4 linked regions of the Homo sapiens genome follow. The protein of the gene in region 1 interacts with the protein of each later gene in a biochemical or structural test. Each region holds a gene or a part of one and is shown in the gene's direction. Other genes may lie near its edges.

Region 1 (7,027 bases):
GAGATTTCTCTTGTACTGGGGTGACAAATATTCATGCATTTATTCAAGTATTTACTGAGTACCTGCTCTTTGCAAGTCATAATTCTAAACACTATGGAAACAGGAGAGAATATGATAGCCATGTTCGGCCTGGGGAGACAGATACCAAATAACTAATTACACATTATTTTTTTTAATTTTTTTGTTTTTTGAAACAGTCTTGCTCTTTTGCCCGGGCTGCAACCTCTACCTCCCTGGTTCAAGCAATTGTCCTGCCTCAGTCTCTTGAGTAACTGGAACTACAGCCACAGGCCACCATGCCCATCTATTTTTTTTTTTTTTTTTTGAGACAGAGTCTCGCTCTGTCGCCCAGGCTGGAGTGCAGTGGAGCGATCTCGGCTCACTGAAAGCTCCACCTCCTGGATGCACGCCACTCTCCTGCCTCAGCCTCCCGAGTAGCTGGGACTACAGGCGCCCGCCACCACGGCCAGCTAATTTTTTTGTATTTTTAGTAGAGACGGGGTTTCACCATGTTAGCCAGGATGGTCTCAATCTCCTGACCTCGTAATCTGCTCTCCTCGGCCACCCAAAGTGCCGGGATTACAGGTGTGAGCCACCGCGCCTGGCCTAATTTTTGTTTTGTTTTGTTTTTGAGATGGAGTCGCACTCTGTCACCCAGGCTGAAGTGCAGTGGTGCGATCTCAGCTCACTGCAACCTCCACCTCCCGGATTTAAGCAATTCTTGTGCCTCAGCCTCCCAAGTATCTGGGATTACAGGTTTCACCATGTTGGCCAGGCTGGTCTTGAACTCCTGGCTTCAAGTGAGCCACCCGCCTCGGCCTCCCAAAGTGCTAGAATTACAGGCATGAGCCACCGTGCCTGGCCCTAATTTTTGTATTTTTAGTAGAGATGGGGTTTTGCCAGGCTGCCAAGGCTGGTCTTGAACTCCTGGCCTTGAGTGATCCACCTGCCTTCCAGAGTGCTGGATTACAGGCATGGGCCACCGCACCCAGCCAACTAATTACACATTTATTTAATTACAGTTGGATAAGTGCTTTAAAAAGGTGGCTAGAATACCTTGACATAGATCGAGGGCAGTTAACAGAGTCTGGGAAAGTTGAGTTTGAGCTGAACTTTGGAAGAACGAACAGGAATTTAATAGGCCAAGAGGGATGGGGTGGATGGGATGAGGAAAAGCGAGCGGTGCATTCCAACTAGAGAGAACAGCATGTGGAAAGCCAAATGGCAGGAGGAGCACAGGCCAGTTTGAGGCAGTGCGAGGAGGCCAGTATGGGCAAAGCAGAGCACAAAGGGAGACTGACATGAGTTCAGGCTGGTGTGAGGTAAGCAAGGGCCAGAAAGCGCAGAACATCTTCAGAGCAGTAGGAAGTGACCAGAAGGTTATAAGCGGGAGAGTGACTTGATTAGGTTTGCATTTTTTATTTTTGTGTTTGTTTTTGTTTTTGTTTTTTTGAGTCAGTGTCTTGCTCTGTCATCCAGGCTGGAGTGCATTGGCGTGATCTCGGCTCACTGAAATGTCCACCTCCCAGGTTCAAGGGATTTTTGTGCCCCAGCCTCCCAAGTAGCTGGGATTACAGGCATGTGCACCAAGCCTGGCTAAGTTTTTGTATTTTTGGTAGAGACAGAGTTTCACCATGTTGCCCAGGCTGGTCTTGAACTCCTCAGCTCAGCTGATGCGCCCACCTGGGCCTCCCAAAGTGCTGGGATTACAGGCATGAGCCACCGTGCCTGGCCAGGTTTGCATTTTTTAAAAAGGACATTCTGGCTACTATATGGAAGTAGATTGGAAGTGTTATGTGTATAATAGAGGATACCAGGAGACTATTTGTAATTTGAGGACAAAGAGCTTGGAGGCAGAGATGGAAAATAAAAGAAAGGGGCCCGTCTTAGTGGCTCATGCCAGTAATCCCAGCACTTTGGGAGATCAAGGCGGGCGGATCACCTGAGGCCAGGAGTTCAAGACCAGTCTGGCCAAAATGGTGAAACCCTGTGTCTACTAAAAATACAAAAATTAGTCGGGTGTGGTGGCGCGCGCCTGTGGTCCCAGCTACTCCAGAGGCTGAGGCAGGAGAATCACTTGAACCCAGGAGGTGGAGGCTGCAGTGAGCCAAGATCGTGCCACTGCACTCCAGCCTGGGCAACAGAGCCAGACTCCGTCTCAAAAAACAAAAAAGGAAAAGAAAGGGAAGAGCTTTTTTTTTTTTTTTTGGAGACAGAGTCTCGCTCTGTCACCAGGCTGGAGTGCAGTAGTGCAGTCTTGGCTCACTGCAACCTCTGCCTCCCAGGTTCAAGTGATTCTCCTGCCTCAGCCTCCTGAATAGCTGGGATTACAGGTACGTGCCACCACACCTGGCTAATTTTTATATTTTTAGTAGAAACAGGCTTTCACCATGTTGGCCAGGCTGGTCTCGAACTCCTGACCTCGTGATCCACCCGCCTCAACCTCCCAAAGTGCTGGGATTACAGGCTTGAGCCACCACACCTGACGGGAAGAGCTTATTTATAAAGGAAGGTCACTGAAGGCGAAAAGGGTGGGATAGCCATGCAGAAATGGAAAGGTTTTGTAGAGAAAGAGTTAAGCATGGCCTGTCATGAGAGAACTGATCCATCCTGTCACAGATAAATCCAGAGGTTCAGAGGAAGGAAAACTGAGCTGCACTTTATTTTTTGTTTGTTTGTTTGTTTGTTTGAGATGGAGTCTCACTGTGTCGCCCAGGCTGGAGTGCAGTGGTGCGATCTCGGCTCACTGCAAACTCCGCCTCCCAGGTTCATGCCATTCTCCTGCCTCAGCCTCCTGAGTAGCTGGGAGTACAGGCGCCCGCCATCGCACCTGGCTAATTTTTTGTATTTTTAGTAGAGACGGGGTTTCACCATGTTAGCCAGGATGGTCTCAATCTCCTGACCTCGTGATCTGCTCTCCTCGGCCTCCCAAAGTGCTGGGATTACAGGTGTGAGCCACCATGCCTGGCCATTTGTTTGTTTTTGAGACAGGGACTTGCTCTATTGCCCAGGCTGGAGTGCAGTGGCTCAATCACGGCTCACTGCAACCTCTGCCTCCTGGATTCAAGTGATTCTCATGCCTCAGCCTCCCAAGTAGCTGGGATTAGAGATGCCCACCGTCACACTAGGCTAATTTTCATATTTTTAATAGAGATGGAGGTCTCGCCATGTTGGCCAGGCTGGTCTTGAACTCCTGGCCTTGAGTGATCCACCCCCTTGGCCTCCCAAAGTGCTGGGATTGCAGGCGTGAGCCACCATGTCCGGCCTGAACTGCACTTTAAAAGGAGCTGTAAGGCCTATGCATAGTCAGTCCTGTGATTGTTTCTCTCTCTTCCCTAGGTATTGAAAACCTTCCCTTTGAATTACAGAGAAACTTTCAGCTCATGAGGGACCTAGACCAAAGAACAGAGGGTATGTATAGAGTAAAAAGTTTTTGTATCTAATGAGTGTGTGTAATCATTTATTTTTCTACTTGATGTTACCGTATCATCTGGTATGATCTGGAGAACTGTGGCTTCTCTCGCTCCTTTTTTACGCTCTTGGAATTCTTAAAACAGGATAATGATCCTCATTTCTGTGTCAGCTTTTTCATAACAAATAGAGTATTGTGAAAACGCCTCAAGAATTCAAAGATGCTGTGTTCTTTATGTCTTCCTGGAGAATAATTAGCCAGGCTGGCTCACACCTGTAATCCCAGCACTTTGGGAGGCCTAGGCGGGCAGGTAACTTGAGGCCAGGAGTTTGAGATCAGCCTGGCCACATGGTGAAACCCCATCTCTACTAAAAATACAAAAACTAGCCAGGTGTGGTGGCACGCACCAGTAATCCCAGCTACTTGGGAGGCTGAGACGTGAGAATCGTTTGAACCTGGGAGGTGGAGGTTGTAGTGAGCCCAAATCATGCCACATGTCACTGCACTCCAGCCTAGGCAACAGAGCAAGACTCTGTCTCAAAAAAAAAAAAAAAGAAGAATTAAAGAAAGTCAACTCGAGTCATTTCTGCTCTCCACGTTTGATATATTTATAGGATGACTAGAATGTTTCTACTTCTCTCATTGTTAATGTTACTGTCACAAATTCCCAGTGTGACTTTAGACTGCAACATATGTTGGTAGATGGGAGGTTTGCTATATGAGAAGTCCTTAAAAAGAGAAAGAAAAAAGAAAGAGGAAAGAAAAAAAAGCAGTAATTGACAATGGGATCTCTATACCGTTCACACTTACAGAAGCATTAGATACCATCTCCAGCCTGGAACATTGAGCAAATTTGGCTGCATTGGGGCATTCACTTGGTTTCTTCAAAGATGTCTGTTGGAGCTATTCCCATACCCACTGAAGGATCTGTAGTCTTGTCTTCATTCTATGTAGCCATGTTCAAGGATGTAACAGACTGGTTTTGAGATACATGAAGCTGTGTCTTAAGTTACTCTGAGTTTACACATGAAAAGGTGAACATCATCAAAAACCCTGGACACAGTTCCCTGAGAACTGCCTGCCGAATGGTGAGAACCAGATTGCTTTTTTTGTAATACAGTTGTAACTCTTGAGTTCATGCATGGAAAGACAGTTGGAGATTATGGAACTATATGCTTTTTCAGCTTCTTCCAAGAGCCTGGAATGAAGTGGAGTATAAACAGTGTCTTCACAGATCCTCCTGGTTATCTGTTGCTGCACTATGTTAGAGTCAGACTTGTCTCTTACTACTGACATATTTATGAGCCCTTCCAAATATTAGTAAACATCTATAGTCTCAATGTCCTGGGACATTACCATTCTTCCAATATTAAAACATTTGGGGCCGGGTGCGGTGGCTTACGCCTGTAATCCCAGCACTTTGGGAGGCAGAGGCGGGTGAGTCTCCTGAGATAAGGAGTTTGAGATCAGCCTGGCCCATATGGTGAAACCCTGTCTCTGCTAAAAATACAAAAATTAGTCGGGTGTGGTGGCGCATGCCAGTAATCCCAGCTACTCAGGAGGCTGATGCAGGAGAATCGCTTGAACCTGGGAGGTGGAGGTTGCAGTGAGCTGAAATCACACTACTGCACTCCAGCCTGGGCAACACAGTGAGACTTGGTCTCAAAAAAAAATAAATAAAATAAAATAAAACATCTGGGAGACCGGGTGCCGTGGCTCATGTCTGTAATCCCAGTACTTTGGGAGGCCGAGGCGGGCAGATCACTTGAGATCAGAACTTCGAGACCAGCCTGGCCAACATGGTGAAACCACATCTCTACTAAAAATGCAAAAATTAGCCAGATGTGGTGGCGCACACCTGTAGTCCCAGCTACTTGGGAGACTGAGGCACGAGAATCCCTTGAACCCACGAGGCAGAGGTTGAGGTGAGCCAAGATCGTGCCACTGCACACCAGCCTGGGCAACAGAGCGTGACTCCGTCTCAAAACAAAAAAACGTGTTTGGAGCAATATCTAGGATGGACAAACAGGAAAAAAAGAAGTAATGGAAAATGAAAGAAGTTGCAATGATGAGCCAAATAGGATGGGCAGCCTGGCTGCAGTGGCTCACACCTGGAATCCCAACACTTTGGGAGGCTGAGGCAGGTGGATCATTTGACCAGGAGTTCAAGACCAGCCTGGGCAATATAGTGAGACCTCATCTCTAGAAATAATTTTTTTAAAAAAATTATCAGGGTGTAGTGGCATGTGCCTGTGGTCCCAGCTACTCCAGAGGCTGAAATGGGAGATCATTTGAGCTCAGAGGTTGAGGCTGCAGTGTGATCCATGATCATGCCACTGCACTCCATCCAACCTGGGCAATAGAGTGAGACCCTGTCTCAAAAAAAAAAAAAAAGAAAAATAGAGTGAGCAGTAAGATAAGCAGAATTGTTACATGGATGTTGGAGTAAGGTCTAATTTTAAATTGTGTGATATACTCAACTACTCAGGAGGCGAAAAGATAGAATCACTTGAGGACAGGAGTTGGAGGTCAGCCTAGGCAACAAACATAAGAGAGAACCTGCGCCTGCCTCTAAAAATAAATAGATTAGGCCAGGCATGGTAGCTCACCCCCAATAATCCCAGCACTTTGGGAGGCTGAAGCAGGCAGATTGCTTGACCCAGGAGTTCGAGACCAGCCTGGGTAACGTGGAAAAAGCCTGTCTCTACAAAAAAATAGAAAAAATTAGCCAGGCGTGGTGGTGCCTGAGATGGGAGGATCACCAGAGCTCAGGAAGTTGAGGCTGCAGTGAGCCATGATTGTGCCACTGCACTCCAGCCTGGGCGACAAAGTGAGACCCTGTGTCAAAAAGAAAAAATACTAATAATTTTGAAATGTATGATATTGATGTACAGACTTGGAAACCAGCAACAGCAGATGACTCAGCCTGATTTGCGGCAGACAACTGCTGTGGGATGTTTTTGAGAAGGAAACAATGGCTTTTGAGACAAAATTCAAGAAGCAGCAAGCCCTTCAAAGAAGCATCTTCAAACATGGACAAAAATACACTTCATATTAATGTGGTGTGCAAAGGATCCCTTGCTGTGTTTCAGTAATTTAAATTCCAACTATGATAGCAATGTTTTCAGCACCTTGAAAGGACCTTTAAAGCAAATATTGTCAGTATGTTCCATTACTTGAGTGCATGGCACAGTACCTCTGAACATTCAGTACTTTTTAGTTGGAAGGTTATGCTAATCAATGGAAAAGGTCCAAAGAACAAAAGGAAGAAATGTGTTTCACCTAGCCACTCAGGGGCCATTGTGACCAGGCCTCTGTCTCTGTTGTAGACCTGAAGGCTGAAATTGACAAGTTGGCCACTGAGTATATGAGTAGTGCCCGCAGCCTGAGCTCCGAGGAAAAATTGGCCCTTCTCAAACAGATCCAGGAAGCCTATGGCAAGTGCAAGGAATTTGGTGACGACAAGGTGCAGCTTGCCATGCAGACCTATGAGATGGTATGGCCCTGTTCATGGCTCCCCACCTACTTCCCATCTAATCCTCAGGGTCTTAGACCCCTCCTTCAACTGTGTTGGGATCTGTTTGGGGTCTGTGAGATCCATAAACTCTGCCTTAA
Region 2 (7,027 bases), on another chromosome or scaffold:
GCTCTTAGAGCAAATGCTTCTCATAGAGATGCTATTAGGAAATAGGTACCTCCTTCCTCAAGAGTTCTAGTTGTTGGGGTTTTAAGTCACGTAACTGTACATATTAGCAGGTAATAAGGGACAGGATGAAGGAGGGATGACCTTTAAACTCTTTGGATTTGATCTGCTTATATTAATTTTAGGGACGCAACTTCAGGATCTATAAATGATATTCAGGAATTCCTTTCATTGTACTTCTTGGCTGAAAGAGGTTTTGGTAATCGTGTTTGAACATGTAATTTATTCCTAAAAAACAAGGGTGTTTGCTTTGTGGAAATGAGAAGGCAATCAAAATAACCACCCACCGTATATTGAGCAACCAACCACAGTGTGTTAGGCATCATATTAGGATCAATACAGATACAATCAGAGTATTTTTTTTTTTTTTTTTGGAGACAGGGTCTTGCTTTGTTGCCCTGGCTGGAGTACAAGGGTGTAAGCATGGCCCACTGCAGCTTCCACCTCCTGGACTCAAGCTATCCTGCCATCTCAGCTTCCGAGTAGCTGGGACTGTAGGCACACACCACCATACTTGGCCAAATGAAAAAAAATTTTTTTTGTAGAGTCAGGGTCTTGCTGATCATTTGATCTCGAACTCCTCGGCTCAGGGGATCCTCCTGCCTTGTCCTCCCAAAGTACTGTGGTTACAGACTTGAACCACCTCACCTGGCCACAATAATCTTAATTCTGTGAAGTGAGTAGTGTTATTCCTAATTTACATTTGAGGGATTTTCAGCTCAGACTTGGCAGAGGTCTACCACTTACTATAACCCTGGCTGGTGTTCAAACTTAAGTCATTCAGATATCAAACCCATGCTCTTTTTTAACTACGCTAGTTATAGGTAGAACATTAAATGAGATGTAGATTATTTAGCACACTGCTGGAACTGCAATTTGATACATATATTTTGTTGAAAGTGGGTGAATAGCACTAGCTTTATATGTGAGTAATCATACTCTATGGTTGGGCTGTGTAAAACTTTTTATTAGGTGACTGTACAATGTTTATTTCAGATAGTGGCTTAAAAGCCACTTTTGTATTTATCCACCTGAATTATGCGCCTGTCAGTATACTGTTAACAGATGTCAGAATATGGTTTTTTTATGTGATTGCAGAGGGAGACTTCAATTCAGAATTTTATCCTTCATAACATTATAGTGATTTTAAAAGTTATATGCAGCAAATGTGTAGTATTTTTCTCATTTCAACTTTCACAGCAGTAGGCAGGTGGTTGTATCCCTTTTTTTATAGATTAGAAAAGTGGGACTCAGGAAAAGTTAGTTCACTTGTTGGAAATTCTGCAGCATATTAGGACTTAAATTCAGGTTTTCTGACTAAGAATCTGATGTTCTTTTTTATTTACATCATGTATATTGCATGCTCTTTATGTCAGGGCATGGTAATCAGATGATACATGATAGTCTGTGGCCCATTCAGTGTAGGCTTTGTTTTCCCCTGAATTTCTACTTCAAACATGCTTATCTGGCCGCTGTTTATGCAACTACTTTAAAAAAGGAACCATAAGGGAAAAATGAAGTCATACAGGAGAAAAACAGAAATGTAATTGTAGCCACTGATACAACCAAGCTCCTGTTTCCACTTTCTCTGGTCTTTTTGGGATTTTCTCCTTTTTGCCGTTACCCTGCCCTTTGATCCTATGTCCTTGCTTATGCTTGTTTTCATCAAGAAGAGTCTCAATGATATGCAGTAGAAAGAAACCATGGTCTGCTGTTTTGTGAAGAGTAGTGTGCCTTGACTTGGGGGTACAGGAGGAAGAGGAATGCAGAGGAGTGAGGATCATGGGAAAATGTTGAACTTTTCTGTTGGAGTTTCTTCGCCACTATGAAGGAAAACATTTTCCCATTAAAATAGAAATACTAGAATCATATACATAACATTTTTGGAATTTAATCCAAAACTTCATCTGTTCCGTTAAAACATACATAAAGAAAAGGAGTAATAAAATAGGTTGGGACTAATAAGCAGCAGATTATATTACTAAGATTTTTCACTATTACTGTAGTTAATTAGTTAGGTCTGGCTGATTATGGCTTTTAGAGCAAAGAATAGGATGAGGAAAATGCAGCTGTTTTATTATCACTAACAGAGATGTGGTGAACAATCCTCTTAGATGTTAAAAACGAAACTGACCCAGGAAGAGAGCCCTCATCAGTACCAGACCATGCTGGCATCCTGATCTCAGACTTTCAGCTTGTAGAACTGTGAGAAAATAAACTTATGTTATTTAAACCTAAATACATAAGTACACCTTTATCTCCTTTTTCCATTCTCTTTGTATGCTTGGGATCCAGGATACACAAATTGAAGTTACTTGTTTAATGATTTTATAACTATGTCAGAATTTAAGTTAAAAGTGAGTTACTCTGTATGTAGAAAGGCTGAAAATAGTACAACTGCAGTAATTCTGTCAGCTATAAGGGACGTGTGGACTGAGAGGGTAGTCTTAATAGATTGTGATCAACTATATGTGAAAACATTTTGTGTAGTGAGTTGATGTGTAGTTTACATGTAAACTAACTCCTTTAGTTCGAAAGGAATTTTATTTTACGTTAAAAGATTATTTTAGGCTGGGCTTTAGTGGCTCACGCCTATAATCCCAGCATTTTGAGGGGCTGAGGCAGGAGGATCGCTTGAGCCCAGGAGTTCAAGACTGGCTTGGGCAAATGGTGAGACTTTGTCTCTAAAAAAATTAAAAAATTAGCCAGGCATGGTGGTGCGAGCCCATGGTCTCAGGTGGGATGATTGCTTGAGCCCAGGTGATAGAACAAAACCCTATCTCAAAAAAAAAAAAAAAATTTTTTTTTTGTATGTATGTAACTCTTTACTTATCTACTACCTAATAATCCACAAAAATACCCACAAATCCTTAATTACGTGGAGGAGGAGGAGATGATAATAGAGATCATTTTAACTTTGAAAGATAATGGATTCCGGGCCAGATGTGGTAACTCACCCCTGTAATTCCCAACACTCTGGGAGGCTGAGGTGGGACGATAGCTTGAGTCCAGGAATTCAAGACCAGCCTGGGCAACATGGCAATACCTCATCTCTATTAAAAAAAAAATTATTAAGAAAGAAAGGGGCCAGGTGCGGTGGCTCACGCCTGTTACCCCAGCACTTTGGGAGGCTGAGGCGGGTGGATCACAAGGTCGAGGGATTGAGACCATCCTGGCCAACCAACATGGTGAAACCCTGTCTTTACTAAAAATACAAAAATAAGCTGGGTGTAGTGTTGCATGCCTTTTAGTCCCAGCTACTTGGGAGGCTGAGGTAGGAGAATCGCTTGAACCCGGCAGGCAGAGATTGCAGTGAGCCGGGATTGTGCCACTGCACTCCAGCCCGGGCGACAGAGCGAGACTCCGTCTCAAAAAAAAAAAAAAGAAAGATAATGGATTTGGTTCTGCCATTAGATCTGGGTTGGATCCTGGGTCTGCTATGGTTTCTGTATCCTTAGTCCAGTTTCTTAATTTCTTGAGTCGTCAGTTGCTCCGTTTATAAAATGGTGTTCAGTGATACCTGTGTTTTTAGCTTCTCAGGCTTGTTGTGAGGTGAACATATAATGTTTCATGTAAAGCACCTTTTAGATGGTAAAGCGCTATGCAGAACTGTTCTTAACTATTACTTCTCCCATTTAAAAAATTTGCTATCTTTCTGATTCTTTTAAGAATTCTGTGCTTTCCCTGTCTCATTCCCCTCCGATAAACTGGAGAAAAAAGGGCTTAGAATGATCACCCATTTTTTTACCTAACCACTTTTCCTGCATTTACACATTTTTTTTTAAAAGAGAAGAAATAACATTTTTTTAAGAGAAAAAAGTCCCAGAGAGATTAACTTCTTCAAGGTCATAGAGCTGGTGACAAAATCAACAGACCTTTGATTTAGTTCATTCATATCTGTAACTTTATACATATTTCTACTTAACTAATTTTGGCATATTTTACGCTTTTTTTTTTTTTTTTTTAAAGGACAGGGCCTAACATGCCCAGGCTGGAGTGCAGTGGTGCAATTATGGCTTACTGCAGCCTCCAGCTCCTGGGCTCAAACAATCCTCCCACTTGAGTCTCCGTAGTAGCTGGGACTACAGGCATGTGTCACCACACCTGGATAATTTCTTAAATTTTTTTGTAGAGACGGGATCTCGTTATGTTGTCTAGGCTGGTCTAGAACTGTTGGCCTCAAATGATCCTCCTGCCTTGGTCTCCCAAAGTGCTGGCTCATGCCTGTAATCCTAGCACTTTGGGAGGCCAGGGTGGGCGGATTTGCTTGAGCCCAGGAGTTCCAGACCAGGGGGCAACGTGGTGAAACCCATCTCTAAAAACAATACAAAAATTAACCAGGCATGGTGGCACATGTCTGTAGTCCCAGCTTCTTGAGGGGCTGAGGTGGGAGGATCGCTTGAGCCTGGGAGGTAGAGGTTGCAGTGAGCTGTGATTGCACCACTGCACTTCATCCAGCCTGGGTGACAGCGAGAGCCTGTCTCAAAAAAAAAAAAAAAAAAGTGCTGGGATTACAGGTATGAGCCATCGCACTGGGCCTCTGCCATTTTTGAGAATATGCTTGAACATTCGAGACTTTCTTCTCCCTTTTGCTTCTGTCATTCTACATGTTGGCTTATCTGACATTCTAGTTTAAATTTTTCTCCTACCTAATTTTCTTAAATGTTCTTTATCCATCTGTCTTTCCTCTGATACTATTTAAAGCCGTTTGCCCTGAAGTAGGCCTACCCTCTCTTGTTTCTTTAGTAGGAGCTGTCTTCCCACTCTGTGTTTCTGAGTGACAGTTTACTCCTGTTTTCCTTTCCCTTTTCTCTCCCATCAGGCTTGAAATCTTTGTTCTTCTTCCATGTTTTCTGAAGCCTGTGCCTTTCTGATATGCCTTTGGATTGATGTTGTCAGCTTAGTTGTTTTTGTTTAATTTTTCACTTTAGGCCTTTAAAGCTACCCCAACTATTTCAGTCTCCCTTTTATTCTAGCACATTCTTGGGCAGTTTCTTTTTCTTAGATTTTACTTCTGTGCTTACATTCCACCTTCTTTTCCACTGTGCCCTCGTTTCCACACTTGGAACATTGTCTGTGACTACATGATGGCATTCAGATAATTTACTAAGTCCATTTTCAGAGCTTGTCTTTGCCTTTTATTTCAGCTAAATCTCTTCTAAAAAAAAATTGATATAGATGGTTAACCAAAATCTTCTCTTACAACAGTTTATTTCATGCCTTATTTCGTAGTCAAAACTCAACTTTTCTGCCACCTTTGTACTTCATAATCACATTTTTCCATAACCAATTCAGAATTAGTTTCATTTCTGAAGAGCTTGGACAGTGTCTGTTGACTTGAGATCCCCATAAAGTTTTCATGAGTTTGGAATTCTCTTTTTTCTTATTCAGTGTTCCAGGTCCCATTTCTTTACCAAAGCAAAATACGTGTACTCTTTACCCTTTGTTATATTTTCTGAGTCCTGTTTTGATACTATTTTCACTCATTTGTTCATTCAACAAATGTTGAGTACCCTGCACATACAGGCCCTGTTCTAGGAGCTAGGGTGTCCTGAATAACAACAAAAAGCCCCCCTTCTCATGGACCTTATCTTCTAGTTGGAGGAAGTGTGGGGTGGGGAGGGACAGTCAATAAACAGATGTACAAGTAATACATGGCACGTTAGGTGGTAAATATTAAGATGGAGAATAAGATAAGGACAGAGTGACTAGGGAGTACTCTTTTAGATAAGATTGGTAAAATAAGGTGACATTTAAATAGTGACTTGAATGAAGTGGGAAATTAGTTATGTGGATATGTGGAAGAGGAGCATTTTCAGGAATGGTATTAAATAGCAAATACAGAGGCCCTAACTTGAAATGTGTTTGGTGTGTTCAGAAAACAGCAAGCACGGCACTTTGGGAGGTCGAGGTGGGCGGATCACTTGAGGTCAGGAGTTCGAGACCAGCCTGGCCAACATGGTGAAACCTCACCTCTACTAAAAATACAAAAATTAGCCAGGCGTGATGACATCCGCCTGTAGTCCCAGCTACTCTGGAGGCTGAGGCAGGAGAATTACTTGAACCCAGGAGGTGGAGCTTGCAGTGAGCCAAGATGATGCCACCGCACTCCAACCTGGGCAGCAGCGTGAGACTCTGTCTCAAAAAAAGAAACAGAAAACAGCAAGGAAACCACTGTGGTTTTAGTGGAAGGAGTAAAGGATATGTGATTGATGTAGTAGGATAGGAAATGAGATCAGTTTGTGTAGGATATATTCTGGATATATTTTGAAAGTAGAATCAAATGAGATTTGCTGATACATTAGATGTGGGGTATGAAAGAATGGAAGAGTCATGAATGACTTAAAGGGTTTTGGCTTGAGCGATTGGAAGGAAATTATTGTTTTATTTTGACCTAAGTCTTCTGCTTTTCTTCTCTTGCCCCCACTTTTTCAGTGTTGCCATTTATGATAGCTTGCTGACACTTACTTCCCAGCCAAGCAACAAGAAAAAAGTTATATGTTCTATATTTTCACATTCCTTCAAATTGGCTGTGCTAGCTACTACTACTGTTGACCTTCTAGCCCCATCCTTTCTTCTCTAGAGGTTTTAAGGTTTCTCTGTGCAGTATGCTTGTATCAGCTCTACCAGTGGAACCGCCTTCAGGAATTATTGCAGGAAACCTTGCAACACTTTTAGTGTTGTCTATAAGTATGTCTGTGCTTCCTTGCATGAACCACTCATTCAAGATGGCTTGTGAATCCACGTAAAAAGAAATATACGAAGTTTGAACTTTAGGGGAACATTAGAGAAAATTGAATGGTTCAACATAAGGGAAGCATAGATTTAGATTCAATGTCAAAATGAAGTCAGAAATAAAACATCTTCATTTAAACCTACTGTTGAAAATAAAACTGTTACAGAAAATTGGGAAGAATGGAATTACCGTAAAATATCAAAAATAGTTCCACTGACTTATCAATACATGACT
Region 3 (7,027 bases), on another chromosome or scaffold:
TCCCTTGGGAACCATCTCTTCACTCTCCCCACCCTCTACCCCTTCTTGGCTATTGTTCAAGTTGGTTCACAAACCCCACTTCTTGCTCAGGACCAGCACAGAAACCTTTCACTCGTTCATTGCACAAATCTCAGCCGAGCGCCTGCCGCCTGCTGGTCATTGTTCTAGGGAGTTCTCGGCTTTCTAGGTTCAAGATTCAGGGAACGTTGCAAGGAGCAAAATATTAATAAATGTGGTCCCCGCTTTGCTGAGGTTACATCCCCAGCTCATCCTAGTGGGAGGAGACCAAAACCTTAATGAGCTCTCATTCCAAAATGAAAACCATCATTTAAATACTCAAAATAGCATAAAGAAAAGAAAACCAGGCAACATGGTAAAGGGAGGTCTCAGGGGAGCGGTGGGGTGTGAGGCTCCACCAGGAGGTGAGGTGGCTATGGGAAACCAGCAGCGGTCTCAGGGCCCTGTGACTCAGGCAATGCCCTTCTCATCCCAGACCTGCAGGACATGTCGCTGATGACCCTGAGCACGAAGACCCCCAAGGACTTCTTCACAAACCATACACTGGTGCTCCACGTGGCCAGGTCTGAGATGGACAAAGTGAGGGTGTTTCAGGCCACACGTAAGTCATCCCCATCTTTGTTCCCCTCCTGCCCTGGCCAACGGGGCACAATCCTGTCACACAGCTGTGTGGCAGATAAATCCTGAGCACCTACTATGTGCCAAGTTCTAAGAACAGCAGACGCAGCAGTGGGCAAGACAGACGACATCTCGTCTACTACCTTCCAGTTGGAGGACACAGACAAAATGACTCGTTATTGCTCCCTGCTTTTCTTTCTCTCTCTCTCACACACGCGCGCGCACACACACACACACACACACACACACCTCCTGGTTATAGACTTTGAGTGCAAGCTGACAGCATGTGGCATGTAATCATTTGTTCTGCAACATCCTGCTAATCAGAGACATCAGGAACTTCTCAGTGACCCACGAGCACCTGCAACTAAGTAGGTGCCAGGTTGATCCCAGGCACGGGGCACAGAGCCATGACTGTGACCGAGTCCCTGCCCTCGTGTTGCTTTCATCTTAGTGGCTGGGAGAACTATAGGTAAAATAATTACATAAAACACCTAGTGTGTCCAACGCTGTGACATGCTATGTAGAAGAATGCGGCAGGGAAGGGGATGTGGAGTGAGGAGTGGAGTTCGGGTTGTGTGGAGAGAGGGTGGCCAGGGAAGGTGTCCCCCATGAGGTGCCATGTGAGCAGAGGGAGGTATAGGAACAGCCAGACAGACACCTAGGGGAAGGGCGTTCCAGGCAGAGGGAACGGCAAGTGCGTGGGCCCTGAGGTGAGATCATGCCTGTGGTTTGGAGGAATGCAGGGAGGCTAGTGCAGCTGGGGCGGAATGTGCAAGGGTTAAAGTGGGGGATGAGGGTGGAAGAGACAGGGCAGAGGGGAAGGGGGAGGTCAGGTAGGCGTATATTGACTTTGGCTTCTGGATGGAAGGAGATGGAGAGCGCCATGGGAGGGTTTTTTTTTTGCATGGGCCTGACAATCATTCTGATCCTGATCATTCTGCCTGGTCTATTCCAAGCTTTTTTTTTTTTTTTTTAATTTTTTTTTTTGAGAGAGTCTCACTCTGTTGCCCCGGCTGGAGTGCAGTGGTGCCATCTTGGCTCACTGCAGCCTCCACCTCCTGGGTTCCAGAGATTCTCCTGTCTCAGCCTCCCCAGTAGCTGAGGTTACAAGCATGTGCCACCACATCCAGCTAATTTTTGTATTTTTAGTAGAGATGGGATTTCACCAGGTTGGCCAGACAGGTCTCGAACTCCTGACCTCAAATGATCCACTTGCCTCAGCCTCCCCAAGCACTAGGATTACAGACACCATGCCCAGCCTCTGTTTCTTTTTTTTTTTTTTTTGAGATGGAGTCTCTCTCTGTCGCCAGGCTGGAGTGCAGTGGCGCAATCTCAACTCACTGCAACCTCCACCTCCTGGGTTCAAGCAATTCTCCTGCCTCAGCCTCCCGAGTAGCTGTGATTATAGGCATCCACCACAATGCCTGGCTAATTTTTTTGTGTTTTTAGTAGAGATGGGCTTTCACCATGTTGGCCAGGCTGGTCTGGATCTCCTGACCTTGTGATCCTCCTGCCTCGGCCTCCCAAAGTGCTGGGATTACAGGCGTAAGCCACCACACCCGGCCTGTTTCATTCTTAAAGTGATTAAACTGACACTGATTTGGTGACAGGTCAACTTATTGCCTCCACCCAGGCATCACCTCCTCCAGGAAGTTCTCAGGGATTCCCTCTATCACAGCTGTCTGCTATTTTCATGATCTCTGCTTCTCCCTACTCACCCGTAAGACTGTGCACTCTCTGGGGGTGAGGATAGGAGGACAGTGACTCTGTCTCCCTGGTCCCCTGCTGTGCCCCTGTCCCCCGCTGACATCTGGCTAGAGCAGATGCTCAGGAATGAGTGAAGGAATGGTGTATACTGGACTTCCTATAAAGTTTGGAATAGCTCAGGCACCCCTGCCACACCCTTCTGGGACTTCAGCCGGGGAGCAGCGTCCCAGCTAGAACTTCAGTCCTTTTCTCCTAAGGGGACTGGCCAGATTTGGCTGCAAGGGGTTCTCTGATGGTGCCATGTGGTGACCCTGGGAAAGGCTTCTGGGGAGCACTAAGGAGAGGAGGAAAAGTCTTCAGAAGTGGGGACGCAGACCTGAGTCTCCCCTGCCTCTCTCCTAGGGGGCAAACTGTCCTCCAAGTGCAGCGTAGTCTTGGGTCCCAAGTGGCCCTCTCACTACCTGATGGTCCCCGGTGGAAAGCACAACATGGACTTCTACGTGGAGGCCCTCGCTTTCCCGGACACCGACTTCCCGGGGCTCATTACCCTCACCATCTCCCTGCTGGACACGTCCAACCTGGTAGGCCGAGAAGGCAGCCCTGCATCGGGGGCCTGGGCTTCCAGGCAGTGGCCTGGCTAGGGAAAGGGGTACAGAGCCCAGCTGGGCAGGGGGACTCCAAACAGCTGCAGGAAGTGGTAGGTGCTGGGCCCTGGCAGCGGTGACAGCCCCTCCTTCCCCTTACCCCCTCCCCTGCAGGAGCTCCCCGAGGCTGTGGTGTTCCAAGACAGCGTGGTCTTCCGCGTGGCGCCCTGGATCATGACCCCCAACACCCAGCCCCCGCAGGAGGTGTACGCGTGCAGGTGAGAGGTCCTGGGGTGCTGGGGTGGGTCCAGACAACAAAGAGCCTGAGTTCCATCCGCAGCACTCACTGTGTGATGGGAAAAACAGTCACCCCTCCCCTGCCCACTGAGAGCTTGCTGCTTGTTGGGGGCTCTAAAAAGGCAGGGAAGTTCCCTACTGTTGTTGTCATTGCCTCTGTCCTGCCCTGATGCAGCTGAGGCTACGTTAACTCCCAGGGGCCTGTAGAGTGTGTCCCATGGACCTTGTGCACCAGAAACTCCTGGGAACTCATTTAAAATGCACCTTTCTGGGCTGGGCACGGTGGCTCACGCCTGTAATCCTAGCACTTTGGGAGGCTGAGGCAGGTGGATCACTTAAGGTCAGAAGTTTGAGATCAGCCCAGCCAACATGGTGAAACCCTGTCTCTACTAAAAAATACAAAAATTGGCCGGGCGTGGTGGCGCATGCCTGTAATCCAGCTACTCAGGAGGCCGAGGCACGAGAATTGCTTGAACCCTGGAGGCGGAGGTTGCAGTGAGCTGAGATTGCGCCACTGCGCTCCAGCCTGGGCAACACAGTGAGACTCCATCTCAAAAATAAAATAACCAGCCTGGCCAACATGGTGAAACCCCGTCTCTACTAAAAATACAAAAAATTAGCCAGGTGTTGTGGCATGTGCCTGTAATCCCAGCTACTCGGGAGGCTGAGGCAGGAGAATCACTTGAACCCAGGAGGCCAAGGTTGCAGTGAGCCGAGATTGCACCATTGCACTCTAGCCTGGGCGACAGAGCAAGACTCCGTCTTGAGAAAATTAAAAATAATAAAAATTAAAAATTAAATTAAATTAAATTAAATTTAAATTAAATAAAATGCACCTTTCTGGCTGCCTGTGAGCTGCTGGGTCTTATCCCTGAGGACGGGGCCCATCTGCATTTTGGGGAGGCCCAGGCAATCTTCCTGCAGTCTGAGAGCCGCTGACAAGTGTGCTGGGGTCTCAGGAGACCCTCTCCTCCCCTCTTCTGATAGCTTCAGGGGCAGAAGAGTAAGAGGGTAATGTGGTCAGGACGCAGGCTGGAATCCAGTGAGGACTGTATTCCGGTCCCAGCACTGTTCCAGGTGGTGTGACCTTGAACAGTGAACTCATATTCTGTCTTCTCCCAAGTTGATATGGTTTGGCTCTGTGTCTCCACCCAAATCTTATCTTGAATTGTACTCCCACAATTCCCACGTGTTCTGGGAGGGACCTGGTGGGAGATAATTTGAATCATGGAGGTGGTTTGCCCCATACCATTCTCATGGTAGTGAATAAGTCTCATGAGATCTGATGGTTTTATCAGGGGTTTCCACTTTTGCATCTTGCTCATTTTCTCTTGCCGCCGCCATGTAAGAAGTGCCTTTTGCCTCCCACCATGGTGTCCCCAGCCATGTGGGAGTGTAAGTCCAATTAAACCTCTTTTCCTTCCTAGTCTCAGGTATGTTTTTATCAGCAGCGTGAAAATGGACTAATACAGTAAATTGATACCAGTAGAGGGGGGCGTTGCTGAAAAGATACCCAAAATGTGGAAGCAACTTTGGAACTGGGTAACAGACAGAGGTTGGAACGGTTTGGAGGGCTCAGAGGAAGACAGGAAAATGTGGGAAAGTTTGGAACTTTCTAGAGACTTGTTGAATGGCTTTGACAAAAATACTGATAATGATATGAACAATGAAATCCAGACTGAGATGGTCTCAGATGGAGATGAGGAACTTGTTGGGAACCGGAGCAAAGGTGACTCTTGTTATGTTTTAGCAAAGAGACTGGTGGCATTTTGTACCTGCCCTAGAGATTTGTGGAACTTTGAACTTGAGAGAGATGATTTAGGGTATCTGGCAGAAGAAATTTCTAAGCAGCAAGGCATTCAAGAGGTGACTTGGGTGCTGTTAAAGGCATCCAGTTTTAAAAGGGAAGCAGAGCATAAAAGTTCAGAAAAGTTGCAGCCTGACAATGCAATCGAAAAGAAAATCTCATTTTCTGAGGAGAAATTCAAGCCAGCTGCAGAAATTTGCATAAGTAACAAGGAGATTAATGTTAAGCCACAAGGCAATGAGGAAAATGTCTCCAGGGCATGTCAGAGGTCTTCATGGCAGCCCCTCCCGTCACAGGCCCAGAGGCCTAGGAGAAAATGGTTTCGTAGGCCAGGCCCAGGGTCCCCATGCTATGTGCAGCCTAGGGACTTGGTGCCCTGCATCCCAGCTGCTCCAGCCATGGCTAAAAGGGGCCAGTGTAGAGCTCAGGCTGTGGCTTCAGAGGGTGGAAGCCCCAAGCCTTGGCAGCTTCCACATGGTGTTGAGCCTGCAAGTGCACAGAAGTCAAGAATTGGGGTTTGGGAACCTCTGCCTTGATTTCCAAAGATGTGTGGAAACGCCTAGATGCCCAGGCAGAAGTTTGCTGCAGGGGTGGTGTTCTCATGGAAAACCTCTGCTACAGCAGTGCAGAGGGGAAATGTTGGTTTGGAGCCCCCACACAGAGTCCCTACTGGGACACCACGTAGTGGAGTTGTGAGAAGAGGGCCACTGTCCTCCAGACTCCAGAAGGGTAGATCCACTGACAGCTTGCACCGTGTGCCTGGAAAAGCCACAGACACTCAACACCAGCCTGTGAAACTGGCCTACCAGGAGGGAGGCTATACCCTGCAAAGCCACAGGGGCAGAGCTGCCTAAGACCATGGGAACCCACCTCTTGTGTCAGCATGACCTGGATGTGAGACCTGGAGTCAAAGATCATTTTGGAGCTTTAAAATTTGACTGCCCTGCTGGATTTTGGACTTGCATGGGCCCTGTAACCCCCTTGTTTTGGCCAATTTCTCCCATTTGGAATGGTTGTATTTACCCAACACCTGTACCCCCATTGTATCTAGGAAGTAACTAGCTTGCTTTTGATTTTACAGGCTCATAGGAGGAAGGGACTTGCCCTGTCTCAGATGAGATTTTGGATTGTGAACTTTTGGGTTAATGCTGAAATGAGTTAAGACTTTGGGGGACTGTTGGGAAGGCATGATTGGTTTTGAAATGTGAGGATATAGGATTTGGAGGGGCCAGGGGCAGGATGATATGCTTTGGTTCTGTGTCCCCACCCAAATCTCATCTTGACATGTACTCCCATAATTCCCAAGTGTTGTGGGAGGGACCCAGTGGGAGATAATTTGAATCATGGTGGCAGTTTCTCCCATACTGTTCTCATGATAGTGAATAAGTCTCATGAGATCTGATGGTTTTATCAGGTTTTTCTCCTTTTTCTTCTTCCTCATTTTCTCTTGCCACCGCCATGTAAGAAGTGCCTTTTGCCTCCCACCATGGCCTCCCCAGCCATGTGGAACTGTAAGTCCAATTAAACCTCTTTTTCTTCCCAGTCTCAAGTATGTCTTTATCAGCAGCGTGAAAACGGACTAATACACGGGTGGAAGGGGTACCCACTAGTTCCTGCCTCATAACTTGTTAGATGGATTCCATGAGCTAATGCCTGCTAAGAGCAGATGGACCGGACGTGCCAGGAGCCTCTGTTCAGGCCACAGGTGACCCCTGAGCCACCTGTGTGTCCCTCCCAATCCTTCCAGGCTGAGCTTCAAATTCCAGAGCACTAAGGAGCTGCTTTTCTGCTCTCTCTAGTATTTTTGAAAATGAGGACTTCCTGAAGTCAGTGACTACTCTGGCCATGAAAGCCAAGTGCAAGCTGACCATCTGCCCTGAGGAGGAGAACATGGATGACCAGTGGATGCAGGTATGTGCCCTGCGGGGCAGGCAGGGTGACTGTCCCTGAGGGCCAAGAGACACTTGGGGGACCCGGGCTCCTGGGGTTCAGC
Region 4 (7,027 bases), on another chromosome or scaffold:
TCTTAAAAAAAGGCAGCAGTAGGGTTTAAACCCCGGCATTTTGTCTTTATTGCCTCTAAACTTAACTTGCTTTAAAAGATGATAAAATGTCCCACAAAGGAGCCTAAATTCCTGAATGATACTGCATATCACTTGGATAGTTATCTATGCTGAGTTGTATAACTTTATGCTTGTCATTTAATTTTACAATTTGGTGGAAGCCAATGTGAAAGCAAGGAGACTTCTGTTGTGGAGTAGGTGTTTTAAACTGAATACCATATTCAGCCTTGGGGTGCTGAATATTTAGTTCACAGCTAGGATTAAGATACTCAACTATGTTAATAAAATACAGTAGATGAAGTCCTGCATTTTAATTGGGATTGATTCACTTAGAACTAAGGATCAAAGTTTAAACTTATTGCAGCGTTAGGGGCCATCTTTGTTGCTAGTTGAACAAGTCTTGGTCGTTTTTAACATGGCTCCTTAGGGTATTTTCTGAAGTTCTGTCTACTTCATTGGAAAGTGTTTGCACTACGCAGGAGTGACAGCAATATGAAATGCTTTGTATTCAAGGCAGCAGAGGTAATCTGGACAGACAGTACATGTGCTTTAAAAGCAAGATACAGTCATAGAAAATATGTAGATAATTTAGCCGGGCATGGTGGCTCGCGCCTCTAATTTGGGAGGCCGAGGCAGGTGGATCACGAGGTCAGGAGTTCGAGACCAGCCTGACCAATATGGTGAAACCCCATCTCTACTAAAAGTGCAAAAAAAAATTAGCCTGGCATGGTGGCATGCACCTGTTATCCCAGCTACTCAGGAGGCTGAGGCAGGAGAATTGCTTGAACCCGGGAGGTGGAGGTTGCAGTGAGCCTAGATCATGCCATTGCACTCCAGCCCGGGCGACAGAGTGAGACTCTGTTTAAAAAGAAAAAAATAAGTATTTGTAAATGTATATATATATATATATACACACACACACACACATATATATATAAAATCATTATGCCATCAGTTTGAGGGAGAGCATGTATGCCAACATTGTAGAGACTAAGTGCCCATTTATCCATAATTAAGATAAGCAGACTTTTCCCCATTGTACTATAAAGTTAGAGTTTGGGGCTGGGTATGGTAGCTTCCGCCTGTAATCCCAGCAGTTTGGGAGGCTGGAGCGGGCGGATCACTTGAGGCCAGGAGTTCAAGACCAGCCTGGCCAACGAGGGGAAACCCCGTCTCTACTAAAAATGCAAAAATCAAGTCAGGCGTGGTGGTGCAGCCTGTAATCCCTCCCACGGAGGCTGAGGAATGAGAATCACTTGAACCTGGGAGGCAGAGGTTGCAGTGAGCTGAGATTGTGCCACTGCGCTCCAGCTTGGGCGACAGAGTGAGACTGTCTCAAAAACTAAGCAACCAAAAACAGAAAAAGATGGAATGGAATTAATATGTTCCATTTAGTAAAGATGGAATAGAATTGGTCCAGTTTGTGTTCATTGTAGCATATTCACCTATTTGGTCAGCAACCATTTTTTTTTTTTTAAAGCCTAAGCATACCCTGAGAACAACAACCTTTTTTGATTAGAACAGAAGAAAAAGCCAGAGTGTTCTTGGGCTGCCAAAATATTAATACGTTTGTCTCAAAGACGAGCCACTTAGGTGCTTGCTTAGAGACTTCTACTTTACACAGAATTTGAAAAGTTTGACAGCTGGCTACTTACTCTGCAAAACGGAAGGGAGACTTTTTAGAACAGCAACTGGTGATCTGGCAAAAATGAAAAGTAGAACTTGTGAAGAAATGAGATGGACTTGGTGTATTAATAGCTAATTTTAGAAGACCCTGTGGATATTCTAAATCAGCATAATAGTGATGTCTGAGCCATAGTGTTAAATTATGATTACTGTATTTGAAGTATAAGAAGGCAGAAAAGTGTGATGCTGTTAGAAAAAAATCTCATTTCAAATGATTGAAGGTTAAAAACAATTGGGGAAAGATTAGAGAGGGCAGGCGGTGCTTTAAGGGAGGTGGAATAATACTTGGCTCCTTATTCTCCAAAAGTGCTGGATAGCTGAAGTTTTTAATATTCTGGATAATTGATATTTGATTATTAGTTTAGGAGGGATAGCATCTTCAGTGAACCCTTGTAGCTCTAAGGTAGGCATATTAAACAACTACCATACTAAAGGTGGGGAGTACGTTTGGAGAGCACTTTGCTGGGCCAGCTGATGATATGCTTAGGTGATATTTAAGAAAATCTGCTTCTTGTCTGAAAAACATTTGGGGCTTCAGAATAATACCACATACCTCATTCTTGGTGTTTTAATTTATTTCTTTGTAATTGTTTTCTGTTTCTTAATAATTTTAAATTAAGGGTATTTTCCCAATATAAACATTGCTTTTTGGTTAAATAAAATCAAAACTAGTTCTGTCTCCATATCTGAATAGACCAGACAGAGAATTTTCTTGCCTTTCAACAGCTTAAAAAATGTTTTTGTTAGAACTGTTGTGTTCAGGCTGAAATACTTTCAAAGTTTGTTAGTTATTATTGAGAAATTTCTGTAATAATCATGGAAAGGGTAATTTAATAGTTAAATCTCAACTTAATTGAAGTTATTTCTGTTGTGGAACTTATGGTCATCTTAGCAAGAGGTCATTGCTTTATAGTCAGTTCTCTTTCTCATTAAAAATATAGTGTACTCACCTTTACAGGGTGAATGTTGGTAAATAACTTCTGTCTGTGAAGGAAGTATTCTGGACCTGTAAGTTAAAAATAAGGTGTTTATAGCAAATTATGTAAATAAAGATTGTATATTAGAAGGTACACACTATTCAAATTAAAGAAAATGTATATTGAGAAAATAACTCAAATTTCTTCCATGAAATTGGCAAGAAGTAAACATTTCAAATACACAAAACATTATGGGTATTTTTGTTCATTTGATTATAAAATGCCAAAGTTGTTTTATAAATGCTACTTCAAGCCTGGAAACTTTGAGGAAGTCCTGAACATTAAGCATATAAATGGCCCAGCTCTAGAATACATGTAAGTTGAAAAGCTAACCTGAAGTGGGAAGCGCAGTATATACCTAAGACTTACTCTGCACTGAAAGTTTGCTTTGTCACTAGAAGTAAAACAAGACTGTGGTAGGATAGTAAGATCAGTAACACCTCAGTTAATCAGGTATCTTGGAGGAAGTGAAGAAAGACCCTAATTCAAGGGACAGTTAATTGGCCTTTTATTCCAAGAATGGGCCTTAGTGGCAGTATCTTAAAAGCCCACAAGATGGAGATGTTTCCTAATGAAAGGCCTTTAATTTCTTTATAGAGCTGAGTTAGTGTCACATCCCAGTCCCCACCCATGACCCTTCCCCAGTTAAAAAGAAGAGAAAATGTTGAGCAAGTCTGATTTGATTCCCATGGTGACATTTTTAGCCATTATGTAACAAATTCTGACAGTTTACCCTTAAAATTAAAAACCTCCAGTCCTGTCTTTTTAAAGGGTAGAAAGAAGGTTAGGTATAGGATAGCTTTTTATTTATTTATTTATTTATTTTTGTACAAAGGGAGCCTATGTAAAGCTGCCAGATCTGAACTTTCTGGTGTTTTGCTGTAATGTTAGTAAGATTTCGCCTTAAAATATTTTATTTTGAGTATATACGTTTGGTCTTAGAGTGTCTTGGTGGATTTCCGCTTACCACCCATCACTTTCTGCATTTTAAAGGCTTAAATACTTTATTGCTGGTTAACTGAGGTTCTACTGTAAACGAATCATCTAAGTTAATTAGTGGATTGTACTTCAATGGATAATTTTCACTAAATTGTTTATATTGCACATTACTTTTGTCTTAAGGACTCTTAGCACATCAAAAAAATTGGCTCACAACTTAATTGTGAGATGTAGAATTTTCCATTTTATGTGCTAAGAGTTTTGTTAATGAGAGAACTGTTAAAATAGAAAAGGAGCTTCAGCATAGACACCAATGCTGGTTGCTGAGATCAGTGGGGAACTGCATAGCATTTTAACAAGTTTAATGAACATTTGGAAGAGAAATTTGAAGCTAAGATTCTGGTTTTTTTGCTGTTAACTTTTTAATCTAAGGAAAACTTTTATGTACAGTATTTTTACTTTGGGTATATGTTTATCTTTTAGCAAGTTGAAAGACTTAATTTGCTGCTTGCTCACTATTTTGTAATTATTTGGGAGCAGCAGTAATAAGCCAGCTTTTTGGAATAGGATGTTCCTGATGTGTGGTTATGTAGGAAGAATGATGTTTTAATATACTGCCCAGTAAACTGGTGCAGTTTGGAAAAGGTGTGTTATTGATGTGGATAATATTTAAGGCAATTTTTTTTAAGCATTTTAATACTGCTTTTTGTCTTTACAGGAAAATGTTTATAGGAGGCCTTAGCTGGGACACTACAAAGAAAGATCTGAAGGACTACTTTTCCAAATTTGGTGAAGTTGTAGACTGCACTCTGAAGTTAGATCCTATCACAGGGCGATCAAGGGGTTTTGGCTTTGTGCTATTTAAAGAATCGGAGAGTGTAGATAAGGTAGTGTGTTACGTGTTCTGATCAGTTAATAATATAAAATATTAACATATGGATAGTTTGATACAATGAGTTTGCCTATTTGTGGTTCCCCATTTTGATAGTATAGGAAGGAAGAATAGTTCTTGCCCCAATACGTTTTATGAAGATAGAGGTAGGTTCAGGAATTATTTCCTGAATAATTTGTGTTCCAGGCTCTGCTAAATTTTGAAATTAACTTTAAAGATACTATAGACTTAAAGATGCCTAGTTAAAAGGATGTGTTTTAGCAATTCACAGAAGTCCATATTTTGAAATTTTGTTAGGCAAGCAACTTTTAACTGAATCATTATTTTGATCCTGGGCTAAAGGGAAGTAGCAGTTATGTTTGTATATAGTGCTAAAGGGAAGTAGCAGTCATGTTTGTATATATTGAAGGTAATGGTTATCTAGTAATTGGTTAAATTTGTGTATGTCCTACCATTCTTACCTTTAGATTTAAACAGTATATGTTAGTTGATGTTACATCACCACCATGACTTGACAGTTTAATCTTGAGCAAGTCAACATATGCTTGGCATTATCTGTATTTATAGTTATTTTTAAGTAAGTTAATAGTCTCTGAACTTCAGTTAAGATATATATTTTTTAAATGAAAACTTCAATTTCCTTAGGTCATGGATCAAAAAGAACATAAATTGAATGGGAAGGTGATTGATCCTAAAAGGGCCAAAGCCATGAAAACAAAAGAGCCGGTTAAAAAAATTTTTGTTGGTGGCCTTTCTCCAGATACACCTGAAGAGAAAATAAGGGAGTACTTTGGTGGTTTTGGTGAGGTATGTTATAAATGTTTTGACCCAGTTTATGTCAAAATTAGTGTGAATGTGATTGTCCCATTATGGACTCAGAGTCACTTGGCTTTTCAAAGCTGTTAGGGTAGATTATGTGATCTGTTTTGGAATAAGGATATTGTAAATACTTCATTAGCAGGTCTTTGAAGGTTGGATAATGTGTTTTTCTCATTGAGCACCTACTCTATGCAGAGTATTGCTGGGGTAGAGTATACAAAGATGAAATAGACAAACATTCTTAAATACAGACAATTAAGAGGAAGAAATCTAGATTAGAAGGAGACTTTTGTTGAAAATAGGAAAGGAATTAAGAATAGGGTGTAGTGCCTTATCAGTTGAAATGCATGTGTAAGTGCAAATTTAATGAGACTAATCATTATAGACTCATTAGTGAGGCTGGACGCGATGGCTCATGCCTGTAGTAATCCCAGCACTTGGGAGGCCGAAGTGGGTGGATTACTGGAGACCAGGAGATGAAGACCATCCTGGACAACATAGTGGGACCCCGTCTCAATTAAAAGTAAAACAAACTTAGACTCATTAGTGAAATAGGTAGATAATAGAGGTTTCTTTTATGAATTAATGAAAGTTGAGAAATTTGTGGCCTTGGGCTCCAGATACGTCCCACAGACATTTATTGCTTGATTGAAACAATAAGTGCTTTTTTAGTGTTGAGGATTTGAGATATTGCCCACAAAACTCAGTATCTAGCTTTTTAAAAAATACTTGCAAGAGCACGCAACATGGGAACTGACGCTGCCCTCCTGTACGGCAGCATCTCTCAAACTGAGTAGTAGCTTCCATCTTGGTTTGGGCATATGCTCTCCAGTTTTTAGTAGTCCTCACCACCCTACTTCCTGTTTTCTCTCAAATACATTTTTATTCTGTTTTTCTTAGATTTGACTGTTTTCTTCTTGTTCTTTGTGGGCATTTGAATTTGTGACCCTTGAGTTAGGTAGTAAATGTCAGTGCGTGGTAAAGCTTATTTTTGTAAATAGTTGTGAAGACCTTAGATGGAATGGGTGTTCTAATTTGAAGAATTCCTTAAAAGGATTAGAATAAATAGGGAGAAACAGGAGACTAGAACTTCAGTGCCAAATACATGTTTTCTTTGTGTGTTTTCCCCCCTCTAAACTTGTGTTTCTTTTAAGGTCAATAAAATGCATGTTAGCATATTAAAATTTGTTTTTTAATACCAGGTGGAATCCATAGAGCTCCCCATGGACAACAAGACCAATAAGAGGCGTGGGTTCTGCTTTATTACCTTTAAGGAAGAAGAACCAGTGAAGAAGATAATGGAAAAGAAATACCACAATGTTGGTCTTAGTAAAGTAAGTTAAGCATCCATTTACTTGTAGAGAAAACTAGCTGTTGTAAAGAGCTTAACCATTTATCTTTCTCTGTAAAGGCTTAAGTTCTTTGCATGCTTTAAAAACTTCTCATTGGTTACTTACCATTGACCAACTTTTTGTGGGGAGCAGGATGGACACATTTGTTAGTGTTTTTGTCTAGGCTTTCACAAAAATAGTTTTTAGAACTTGACAAGTAAAATGAAGTAACATCACTAGCAAGTACTCATAAGTGATTACTCTTAAGTACTAAATATTGGTTTAATTAATAAACTGACTGAGGAAAGTTTCAAATTAGCCTACTCTATTTAAACATGTTGGCT

What was found.
Region 2: the proteins of ING4 (region 1) and EGLN1 form a complex in vitro, tested with the Homo sapiens proteins (one study listed by BioGRID).
Region 3: of the proteins of ING4 (region 1) and PADI4, one has a biochemical effect on the other in vitro, tested with the Homo sapiens proteins (one study listed by BioGRID).
Region 4: the proteins of ING4 (region 1) and HNRNPD form a complex in vitro, tested with the Homo sapiens proteins (one study listed by BioGRID and IntAct).

Annotation. Positions count from the first base shown.
Region 1 is NC_000012.12:6,653,111-6,660,137, reverse strand, and holds part of ING4 (inhibitor of growth protein 4), read left to right. Parts: intron 1-3,338; exon of another isoform or gene 3,339-3,339; coding exon 3,340-3,411; intron 3,412-4,224; exon of another isoform or gene 4,225-4,500; intron 4,501-6,741; coding exon 6,742-6,908; intron 6,909-7,027.
Region 2 is NC_000001.11:231,412,266-231,419,292, reverse strand, and holds part of EGLN1 (egl nine homolog 1), read left to right. Parts: intron 1-7,027. UniProt on the Homo sapiens protein: Cellular oxygen sensor that catalyzes, under normoxic conditions, the post-translational formation of 4-hydroxyproline in hypoxia-inducible factor (HIF) alpha proteins.
Region 3 is NC_000001.11:17,339,195-17,346,221, forward strand, and holds part of PADI4 (protein-arginine deiminase type-4), read left to right. Parts: intron 1-493; coding exon 494-619; intron 620-2,748; coding exon 2,749-2,927; intron 2,928-3,104; coding exon 3,105-3,208; intron 3,209-6,833; coding exon 6,834-6,945; intron 6,946-7,027. UniProt on the Homo sapiens protein: Catalyzes the citrullination/deimination of arginine residues of proteins such as histones, thereby playing a key role in histone code and regulation of stem cell maintenance.
Region 4 is NC_000004.12:82,356,972-82,363,998, reverse strand, and holds part of HNRNPD (heterogeneous nuclear ribonucleoprotein D0), read left to right. Parts: intron 1-4,359; coding exon 4,360-4,528; intron 4,529-5,178; coding exon 5,179-5,340; intron 5,341-6,554; coding exon 6,555-6,686; intron 6,687-7,027. UniProt on the Homo sapiens protein: Binds with high affinity to RNA molecules that contain AU-rich elements (AREs) found within the 3'-UTR of many proto-oncogenes and cytokine mRNAs.